Homo sapiens: one gene and its partners. The protein of the gene in region 2 purifies or fractionates together with the protein of the main gene of each other region. This does not show direct contact. Each region holds a gene or a part of one and is shown on either strand. Other genes may lie near its edges. The genes, in order: MACIR, SPDEF and MYO5C.

Region 1 (3,825 bases), on a different chromosome or scaffold from region 2:
TAGGTGAATGCTTTACATGCTGCAAAGCTCTTTACAACGTGTGATGCTATTATTATGCAATTAATTTTTGGTATCGACTCATTGTAGCCATAAAGCAGCAACAATGTAAATCTTTCATAAGACTGATGCGAGGCAAATGATTAGAAGTCTCTTGGATAACACAACAAAAAAAGAGAGTGACTGAAAAAGCACTTTTTTATAGTTACCACCTTACTTAAGGTTTCTAGCATCTCCTCTGTGCCTTCCCTCTCTTACCTGGGAAGTTAATGTGTAAGAGAATCTATCTTTATCTCCTACCTCCCTAGTTAATAGGGTTAATTTGCTGAGACGAGGAAAACCCTCCAAAGTCCTTTTCCACCTGTAAAAGTTTCTTTGGTTGTTGGTTTTCTGTTGGGTTAAACAACAGAAGCAGTTGGAGGGGTGTCAAATGAAGCGAGTAGATTCATTTTATCTATGTAGGTGCACAGAGCCCAAGAAGTGTCAACAGTACAATACCTTATCAAACAAAAGACAAACTGCAAGAAAAAAGGCAAGGAGTTTGTAACTTTATTACTTTCCCTACCAGTACAGGAGAGTTTTATCCAAAGGAAATAGATAATTACTGAGTTTAATATGTGCTTCTTTAGCTTGAGAAACTGGAAGGAGCCAATGCACCAAGAACTGTCACTCCAAGAAACTAGCATGTTTATCAGCCTTTGCAACTTCTTCAGATGTAGATAACAGAAACACTCCCTTTCATGTATTTTGCCACCAACTATTCTCAAATTGGGGAACCAAAAAATCTTGAAAAGTAAGCCTTGATTCTACCCCACCAATGAAGCCTCTGGTTTTAACACACAGTAAATTGTAACAAAAATTGTTACCTACAGACAAAATGTTTATTTAATATAATTATCCCAAAGAATTTCCCCAATACTAATAACATTCATCTGCATTTCTTATTTAATGGATTTTTAATGGGAAAGAGGAGTTCTAAAAACGAACATTTCTTTAGCATCTTCCTTATGTCAAAAGTGATATACAATTTATATCATTTAATCTTAACTACTCCATGAAGAAAATATTATTATCCCATTTTTAAAGTACTCTTTAGTAGTAGCCCTATTTTAAAGTACTCTTTTAAGTGATACTACATGAGAGTCACAGCAGGAATTGGAACCCCAATTGGTCTGACTCCAAAGATCATTTACTTTACACTCTGGCCTCTGTTCAATGATAAGACAACATGTATAGCCTTTTACACAATAATCATGATCCCGCAAAATGTATATCAAGTAATTTCTATAAGTGAAAATCTATTTTAAGTGTATGGGTAGGCACTTTATCTAAAAGCTTTATTGCCTCATTTGTGAAATGGTTGGGGGAACTACTTAGCTGCATGGTTATTTCCAACTTGAAAAATATTAAGATTTGGTGGCACATCGTGGAAAGTCTTATACAAAATCCTTCTGAATCATGGACTCTTTCTCCTATGAGCTTCTATTTTCTAAAATCATAAATTATGCGACAGAAAAAAAGGTATCAACCAATACCGTCTGGTTATATGGTTGGATATCAAATACAGTTATATATTTCCGCTTTATTTCTCAAGACTACATCTATCACAAAGTGGGATAGATTTCATTTATACTTTTATAAATGTCAATTTAAAACAAGCAGGAGGAACATTAGAAATATCTGAATGTCTTAATCCTAAAGAATAGTTTTGACAGTCTTAAATCTCATTCAAACTTTCATATAATTTGCCTCATGTATTTGGTGACATATTCTTCTTTTTAAGCTTTTAAATGCATTAGAAAAATATTTACACTTTCAAAGAGTTTCTTTTTCAACATCAAAAGAAAGAAATCAACTAAAACTTTAGTCTGGATTTGAAAGCAGAGGAGCCTTGAAGACATTACCCAACTCTTGCACTGGAGCTGATGTGTAAATCTAGGAAATGATCGGTAATTTCATAGTAAACAAAGAGTAGTAACTGATTATTCCTATTATGCCAGTGCCAAGCCAAAAATAGAATATAAACACAATGTCCAAGGGAGCAACACAAGAAAACCAAGGTGCAGAAGCTCCATTACATTCTCACTTTTTCTAATTTTGACTCTGCTTCCTGCTTTGTGGGAGGAGGAGGAAGAGCAGGAGGAGGAGGAGGAAGAGCAGGAGGAGGAGGAGGAGGAGGAGGAGGTATATGGTGAAAAAGAGGGAAAAATAAATAAAAAGAACAAGACCAGAAACTAACTAGTATAAGATTATACGTTTTCTTTAAGACATAACCCATAAAGAAATCTACTACAAAATTACAGTAAGGGTTCTACCCCCATCTCCCACTTATAACAATTAAAAGATTGTAATATAAAAATTCCCAAAACATGTACCTTTCAAATAACACACATTTTTAGAATACTTTAAAAATCTATAATTCTCTAACGCTTGCAACTGATTTTGGCCAATGTTCTAAACACTGAAGGCTTGGAAAGATATCAACAGATTTCCTCTCCAAAACAGTCAGCAAGAGGAAAAGGAATCCATGTGAAATTCTTAGAAGATAGACTAAATGCTGCATAAAAACAAAGACTGAAGTAAATAGAGCAAAGGCTACAAGATATAATAAATGCTTCCAGTTATAAGAAGCTGAAACAGAATGCAGTGGGACATTATCCCATAAGCAATAAAAATAGGAAAAAACCAAGCAGTGGCCAAGAGCTGCCCACAGACTTCTGGATAAGAAAGTCATGGGTGACTAAGCAAAAGACACCCAACATTTCACTGCAAGTGGAGCTTCTACAAATAGAAAAGTTTGCAAACATTAACTACCAAATGTATCGAATTTCTCAGGTGATAGTTATTATCACAGGTAAATAAGAATGCCTTTCAAAAGAAGAGTGACTATATATCTCAATTCATAGTCAATACCCTGGCATAATTATTGAAAGCAACCCCCTTTAACTCTCAAAAGTGTCTCAGTTTGGCTGTTTCATTTGTTATCCTACTCAAAAGCAACATGGAAAGGCAATGACTTTTTTAAAAAGGGAAACACCCTTCTGCTTGAACGGTGAATTCCCATACAGGTCTGAGTTCTTTCTTCGGGTGTACCCACTTAGATATTCACTTATTCAGTCATTCAACAATGTTTCTTAAGTCTTATTATATATCCCCACACTATGCAGGCACTGGTGCACATATAAAGAGATGGCCTGAGACTGGGTCAGAGGGGAGGGCAGACATGGAAATAAATCCTTCTAATAACAGTAAACCTGAATGGCACTAGGAACCCAAAAAAGGGAGTGCCTTTCCCAAAAATATACAAAGCTCCATTTGGAAATGTTTATGTCCATACAAAATTCGTAAACACACAAAAAAGTCGTGAATCTCAAGCTTCAGCACAGATCACTAACAAAACAGCAGTAAGAAAAAATTTAACAACATTGATCACAAATCATAAGACTATAAATATGAGGACCAGCACATAGCCCTTTCAAATATTGGTAAATAAAAATCACATTCATCATTAAAGTTTATATTATGAAAGGACAAATTTTAGGCAGAGAAATTGGTACAGTAGAAGCTGTGAGTTCTAATTCTAGCTATCAAAACATTTATTTTCATTTTTTTCATGGCCCTAACCTGAAGCCCACCAAAACATTTTCAAGAAAGAAAAGAAAGAAAGAAAGAAAGAAAGGAAGAAAGAAAGAAAGAAAGAAAGAAAGAAAGAAAGAAAGAAAGAAAGAAAGAAAGAAAGAAAGAAAAAGAAAAACAGGTAGTATTTTCAGAGTGGCTATTTAAGAAGAGACCACTAATGGAAAAGCACTTGGAAAAAAAACATCAATT
Region 2 (3,600 bases):
AAATATAAAAATTAGCAGGGTGTGGTGGCAGACACCTGTAATCCCAGCTTCTCAGGAGGCTGAGGCAGGAGAATCGCTTGAACCCAGAGGCAGAGGTTGCAGTGAGCTGAAATCACACCACTGCACTCCAGCCTCAGTGATAGAGCGAGACCCTGTCAAAAAAAAAAAAAAAAAAAAGAAGAGGCTGGGCGCGGTGGCTCACGCTAGTAATCCCAGCACTTTGGGAGGCCGAGGCAGGCAGATCACGAGGTCAGGAGATCGAGACCATCCTGGCTAACACGGTGAAACCCTGTCTCTACTAAAAATACAAAAATTAGCCGGGTGTGGTGGCGGGCGCCTGTAGTCCCAGCTACTCGGGAGGCTGAGGCAGGAGAATGGCTTGAACCCGGGAGGCAGAGCTTGCAGTGAGTGAGCCGAGATTGCACCACTGCACTGCAGCCTGGGCAACAGAGCAAGACTCCATCTCAAAAAAAAAAAAAAAAAAAAAAAAAGAAGAAAAAGAAAAAAAAAAGAAATGCTTATTATTGAACAACTGTCTATTGAGCATCAGTTATATTCAAGGTGCTATCCTAGCATCTGGGGATGGATTGATGAGCAAAACAAATGAAAATCCCTGCCTTTGTGGAGTGTACATTCTAGTGGAGGACACAGAGAGTGAGCGAGATCAACAGATATGGTGCGGCACGTCCGAGGAGTGTAAGTGCTATGAGAGGAAGCAGGTGAGAACAGCAGGTAGGGATGTGAGCAGAAATTTTTCTTCTTTCTTTTATTTTTCATTTTTTTGTTTGTTTTCTTTACCATGTCCTGTGCTCATGGGCAGCAATTTTAATGGAGGGGTCAGGGAAGGCCTCATGCGGATGGTGCCATCTGAGCCAAGACCTGAAGGAAGTGAGTCACACAGATATTTGGGGGAAGAGCGCTCTAGGCTGAAGAAGCAGCAGCGTAGCAAATGTTGTGGGAACAGCAAACAGGCCAGTGTGGCGGGAGCAGAGTGAATGAGGGGAGAGCGAAGTCCAAGAGGAGGTGGGGGACACAGAGCTTGAATTCATATCATCCAGCACCTACCAGTGGGGACCCTAGGCTGGCATGGTTGGGACACTAGAGGTGGACAGAAACCTTCCTGGCCCAGGCTCACAGCTGACTGTGTGTAGAAGTGCCAGCATCCCCAAAGCTGCCCGAGGCTGGGCCAGAGGTGGCCAGAGTCCATCCAGCAGTGCCCCGACCCACCCCAGCGACCTCAGCCTTGCCTGTGACCCATCTTACGGAAGCAGGCACATGGAGAGGGCTCACCTGCGGTGATGTTGAGCAGCTTGCAGGCCGTCTCGATGTCCTTGAGCACTTCGCCCACCACCATGGACTGCACCTGCTCCAGCGAGTGCTCCTCCAAGGTCAGCCCGCCGGGCACCAAGTCCAGGCTGCCCGCTGGGGCTTGGCTGTCAATGACCGGGCACTGCTCAGGCTCCTCAGGTGGCTCCTCCCGACTGCTGGCCCCAGGGGCCTTGGCTGCCCAGCTGCTGTCCTCAGGGTACAGCATGTCAAAGTAGGAGAGGTAGAAGGCGGACAGGCCCTGCTCGGGCGTGGCGGGTGGACTGGGACTCCAGTCCCGTCTCTCGAGACCCACTGCCCCCGCTGCCGCCTTCTCCAAGCCTGTCCGCGACACCGTGTCGGGGGGCAGCAGGAGGTGGCTGGGGGATACGCTGCTCAGACCCGGGCTGGCGCTGCCCATGCCGCTGCTGTTTGGGCTGGCGGCTGTGTCTACGGAAATGAAAGAGGACTCAGGTTTGACTGCTTCTCCATCCCTGTGGGGGCCGCTAAGCTGGTTATGGGGATGAGGGGCCCTGTGGACAGTGGGCTGGGCCTGGGACAGAGTTGGGGGCTTCCGGGTCATTGGGCAGCCACGACATGGTTGGGCAGACAGGCCTTCTGGCTGGGAAAGACAGCGAGGTGGGAGTGGGTGCAGGACTAGAAATAGATCGCTCCCTCAATCCCCAAGGAAGCCAGGCTGGCTGGGAGCAGCAAAGCTCCACACATGTACTGTGCTTAAAACAGCCTTCTGAGGTTCCTGACCTCATTCAGCCCTCACAATGGAAGGCATGATTGCGCCATTTGGCGGATGAGCAAACTGAGGTGGGAACAAGGGGCCCTCAGTGTCCAAATCTTTCCTGATATAGCAAAGCTTGTTTTTCTTCTGCCTTTGACAAGGATAGGAGTGGAAGTGGCAGGCAGAGGCCACCATCCTAAAGGTGGCTATCATCTTCACCAGCAGGGGAAAGACGAGAGGAACAAGGCGGGGTAGAAACCCTCCCACACGCCGGGGAGTAGGCCAGCCCTTGCCCTCCCACAGGGCTATCTGGGGGATCTAAGTAAACTCAACACTCTCAAGGTGGCCACTGAGCAAGAGCTCACAGGTGTGTGTCTCCCAATACCCCAGGCTGGGTGCATGGTACCCACCTCCCCTTACCCTCCCTCAGAAGGTGCTGCCCCCAGGGCCCCTTCCAGCTCCCAGTGCTCTCTACTTTCCCCGATGCCTGGAGGAGCATGCGGCCACCCGGAGGCAGTGCCACATGCCAGGCTTTCCAGGAGGAGCCAGGGTGGTTGTGAGATGGGGCAGGGCTCCAGGGAACACCTAAAACCCTTAGCAACTCAGCCACCTGCTCCTCACTGCTGCCCCAAGGCCCTCCGGGGGAACCATCTGGCCTCAACACAAGCAGTCAGAGGCCTTGCTCCCCACGGGCCGCCCCGGCTTGGTTTTGCCCAGGCCCTTTTCCCTGAAACCAATAGCAGAGTGCACAGTTTGGGTGAGAAGGGGGACTGGAGAGGTGCGCAAGCACTGAAACCCCAGGACATTCTGGGATGGCAGTGATGTGGGGGCCTGAGACTTAAGAATACATCAAGACAGGCTCAGTGCAGTAGCTCGTGACTGTAATCCTAGCTCTTTGGGAGGCCGAGGCGGGCAGATCACCTGAGGCCAGGAGTTCGAGACCAGCCTGGCCAACATGGTGAAACCCTGTCCCTACTAAAAATACAAAAATTAGCTGGGCAAGGTGGTGGGTGCCTGATTCTCCTGTCTCAGCTACTCGGGAGGCTGAGGGAGGAGAATCACTTGAACCCAGGAGGCGGCTGCAGTGAGCCGAGATCGTGCCACTGCACTCCAGCCTGGGTGAAAGAGCAAAACTCCGTCTCGAAAAAAAAAACAAAACACACGCACACACACACAAAGAATACGTCAAGCCAGAGGCAGAAGATTACCAACAGATATACGCTCCTAATAATACAGAGAACCAGTTAGGGAGGAGGAAAGGAACAGATAAACCTGTTAAGGGCAAGTTAATTTGTGTCCTTTCTCGAGGGTTATTTATAGTTTCAAGCAGTGGTTCTCCAAATGTGCCGTCTGGGCCAGCAGAACCAGCGCCACCTCGGAGCTTGCTAGAAACTTGAATTCTCAGGCAGTTCACAGCCACTGAATCAGCAGCTCTGGGGGAGACTCCGCAGTCTGGTTTAACTGGCCTCTGGGTGATTCTCGTGCATGTTCAAATTTGAGGATCTTTGCTTTAAAGGTAACTGGCCAGTTGGGGGGAAGGCTTTAATCAAAGCACTGAA
Region 3 (3,825 bases), on a different chromosome or scaffold from region 2:
TGCATGGAACCCGGGGGGTTGGGAATACAGTGCCCCAAAACCCAGTGTGTCTTTTAAGTTCAGCCTCCCTAGCCAGTGTGCCCTGTGCGTGATCACTGTAAAGCCACACCTTTCAAATCAGGAGGTGTAAGAAGTTGTCTTTAACCTAAGGGAAGAGGAAACAGTTTGCTAAAAATAAGGCCATTACCTGCTGGAACTGTCACAGTAGGTTCTAATTAACTTGTCTCCTCTTGTTGTTTTCAAAATGATGTATTCTAATTCAAAGTAAAGACTGTAGAGACAATTCTAAATTATTTTCTTCTTTTTTAGGGGGTGTTGTGGGGAGGGTCTCACTCTGTCACCCAGATTGAAGTGCAGTGGCACGATCTCAGCTCACTGCAGCCTGGACCTCCTGGGCTCAAGCGATTCATCCACCTCAGCCTCCTGGGTAGCTGGGACTACAGGCGTGCTCCACCACACCTGACTAATTTTTGTATTTTTAGTGGGGACGGGGTCTCTCTTGTTGCCCAGGCTAGTCTTGAACTCCTGGGCTCAAGGGATCCGCCTGCCTTGGCCTCCCAAAGTGCTGGGATTACAGGTTTCAGCCACCATGCTCAGCTCTAAATTATTTTCTTCTTTTGCTGCGTAGGCTTCTTGAAAAAAGTTTTGAACTGAAAACACAAGACTATGAGAAGCAGATTCAGTCTTTGAAAGAAGAAATTAAAGCTCTCAAGGATGAGAAGATGCAACTCCAACACCTGGTGGAGGGGGAGCACGTCACTTCTGATGGCTTGAAGGCGGAAGTGGCCCGCCTGAGCAAGCAGGTCAAGGTAGAGCGGCTCTCACGTTCAGCCCCGCCCTCTGGTTACGTCATTTGATTGCAATTCCAAGTTCCCACAGATTAGACAGCTAAAAGCATCTGTGTAAAGGCCACAGGCAACTGGAGCCTGATTCCTTCAGTCCTTCCAACTGTGCACCTCCAGGCTGCCTTTGATTTAGCAATCATTGTATTCCATATTTTAAAAGTCAACTTTCTAACTTTTTTGAAATTACATTTATGTAAAGTTATTTAAATATGTCGATGTAGAGAATACTCCCAAATTAGACTGTAAATTGAGGTGAATCCTTATTATATAATCCATCACTATAAATCTATAAACACCTGCATTAAAGTTAAGTTACCTTATTATCAAAATCTTTCATTTAAACTGTTATTAGAAAATTTACTAAAACAATTATCCAATGCACAGTGTGGTGAATGTAGTTAATAAGAGCATATTGTACATTCAAAATTGCTATGAGTAAATCTTAAATGTTCTCACCACAAAAAATGACAAGTATTTGAGGTGATAACATGTTAATCAGCTTGAATTATTCCACAATATATTCATAAATTATAACATCAATAAAGCTATAAATTTTCAATGGTAGAAATTTTTAAGTAAATTTTTATAAAGCTGAGAAGGAAAAATCACATAGAATTTTTAAAACTGCATAATGATATATAAAAATATTGTTACCTGCCGGGCACGGTGGCTCAGGCCTGTAATCCCAGCACTTTGGGAGGCCAAGGCAGGTGGATCATGAGGTCAGGGGTTCTAGACCAGCCTGACCAACATGGTGAAACCCTGTCTCTACTAAAAATACAAAAATTGGCTGGGCGTGGTGGCAGGTGCCTGTAATCCCAGCTACTCAGGAGGCTGAGGCAGGAGAATTGCTTGAACCTGGGAGGCGGAGGTTGCAGTGAGCCGAGATCGCGCCACTGCACTCCAGCCTGGGTGACAGACCGAGACTCCGTCTCAAAAAAAAAAAAAATTGTTACCTGTATCTATCATTAAAAATATATAAATATTCCTGGGCAATTTAATAAAATGCTCTAGAGAAAAATGAATGAATGGATGAAGTAATGATCCATGCTTGGACAATCAAGGCTTAAGTGAATTGTTTCCCTACCAGAAAAGTTAAACCTGAGTGTACCTACGTTCTTAAATGTAAGACATTTCATCATTAAGTTGGAAAGCTTTTAAGCTTCTACTAAATATGTGAAATACATATTAGTAGAGTATTTGTAGGATTATGGAAATAGTCTCTGTAATTGTCATGAACTAGCCATGCGTGGTTTAGAAGAGCTTTTGGAATTGCATCCGGGTGGCCACTGAATTCCACAACTGAAGTGTCTGTCTTTTCTGGGCCCCGTCCCCTATTGTTTAAAAGTAGGAGGTCAGACCACATGATCAGGAAGGGTCACTTTCATTCCTGTGACTGCTTCACTCTTAGCAGCCACATGAGCCTGATGTCAGTCAGTCTGTGGGAGTCCTGTCATCTGGCTGAGGTCTGAGGTCTGTATCTTAAATGTAGGAACTTGTGAGACTGCGCTTGCAGAGAGGTACCAGTAGGTGTCACTCACTTCCTCTTTGGTAGCTAAGACTGGTTCACTCTCCAATGTGATCCATTAAGATTACTTGGGGCTGGGCACGGTGGCTCAGGCCTGTAATCCCAGCACTTTGGGAGACTGAGGTGGGCGGATCACGAGGTCAGGAGATCAAGACCATCCTAGTTAACACGGTGAAACCCCATCTCTACTAGAAAAAAAAAAAAAAATTAGCCGGGCGAGGTAGCACACACCTGTAGTCCCAGCTACTCGGGAGGCTGAGGCAGGAGGGTCGCTTGAACCTGGGAGGTGGAGGTTGCAGTGAGCCGAGATTGCACCACTGAACTCCAGCCTGGGTGACAGAGTGAGACTCCGTCTCAACAAAAAAAAAAAAAAAAAAATTACTCTGGGTTTTTGTGTTTTGTTTTTTGGGTTTTTTTTGAGACAGAGTTTTGCTCTTGTCACCCAGGCTGGAGTGCAATGGCACCATCTTGGCTCACTGCAACCTGCCTCCCAGGTTCAAGCGATTCTCATGCCTCAGCCTCCCAGGTAGCTGGGATTACAGGCATCTGCCACCACACCTGGCTAATTTTTTTTTGTATTTTTAGTAGAGACAGGGTTTCACCATGTTGGCCAGGCTGGTCCTGAAGTCCTGACCTCAGGTGATCCACCCGCACTAGCCTCCCAAAGTGCTGAGATTACAGGCGTGAGCCACCGTGCCCAGCCTACTCTGGTTTTCAAAGAAAATAACTCATGATCATCAAGTTATATGTGTTATAGTCAGTCTTAAAAGCCTAAGTAAATGCAAATCTGACTTGGAACATTTACTGAAACATTACAAAGAAAAGCATGGCCTTCAGGATTTGGATAGTCCTGAGTCCCCCATAAACCTGGCATGTGACCCTGAACGTGCCAGTCAGCCTTCAGTTAAATGTAGCTGCTGTTTGCTAATTGAGAAAAGATCACTCTACTTACCTCATAGGCCTGTTAGGAGGATTAGGTCTTCTAGGTAAAGTGCTCAGCACATATCAGTTTGATTCTCCTGCTTACTCTCTGTAGAAACAGGGGCTGGAGCCCTTAAATACTCAGGGTAACTGAAAAAATATCAAGGAGAGTTTATTCACCTCTGCTGTCCCTGAAAGTCCTTATATCTCCCTCAGATACAAAGCAAAAGCACAGACCTGTGATTCTTATTCAAGCTGAGCTCACAAGGGAGAATAAAGGCAGAATACTGCCTCTTCCCCACAACCAGAGCTGCCCAGGCCACCTCCTTCCCAACAGCCAGCTAACTCCCAGACCTCCTGGACTCACCAGTCTCTGCCACTGCTCCACATCTAAGCTGAGCTGAAGCCAAAACCCACAGTTATGAAGGTGGCAACTTTGCCCATGTCCTTGCACTCAATATTTTATTATCCATTAAAAGAGAATTTTAGCCCGTGATTTTACCTTTCTCAGTCTTCCCCCTGTCCCACCCC

What was found.
Region 1: the proteins of SPDEF (region 2) and MACIR purify together in Homo sapiens (affinity purification with mass spectrometry; 3 studies listed by BioGRID and IntAct, with this or other methods). This does not show direct contact.
Region 3: the proteins of SPDEF (region 2) and MYO5C purify together in Homo sapiens (affinity purification with mass spectrometry; 3 studies listed by BioGRID and IntAct, with this or other methods). This does not show direct contact.

The regions. Positions count from the first base shown.
Region 1 is NC_000005.10:103,261,557-103,265,381, reverse strand, and holds part of MACIR (macrophage immunometabolism regulator), read right to left. Parts: intron 1,489-3,825; exon of another isoform or gene 1,376-1,488; intron 1-1,375. UniProt on the Homo sapiens protein: Regulates the macrophage function, by enhancing the resolution of inflammation and wound repair functions mediated by M2 macrophages. The regulation of macrophage function is, due at least in part, to its ability to inhibit glycolysis.
Region 2 is NC_000006.12:34,542,730-34,546,329, forward strand, and holds part of SPDEF (SAM pointed domain-containing Ets transcription factor), read right to left. Parts: intron 1,756-3,600; coding exon of another isoform or gene 1,727-1,755; coding exon 1,291-1,726; intron 1-1,290. UniProt on the Homo sapiens protein: May function as an androgen-independent transactivator of the prostate-specific antigen (PSA) promoter. Binds to 5'-GGAT-3' DNA sequences. May play a role in the regulation of the prostate gland and/or prostate cancer development.
Region 3 is NC_000015.10:52,226,117-52,229,941, reverse strand, and holds part of MYO5C (unconventional myosin-Vc), read left to right. Parts: intron 1-628; coding exon 629-809; intron 810-3,325; exon of another isoform or gene 3,326-3,444; intron 3,445-3,825. UniProt on the Homo sapiens protein: May be involved in transferrin trafficking. Likely to power actin-based membrane trafficking in many physiologically crucial tissues.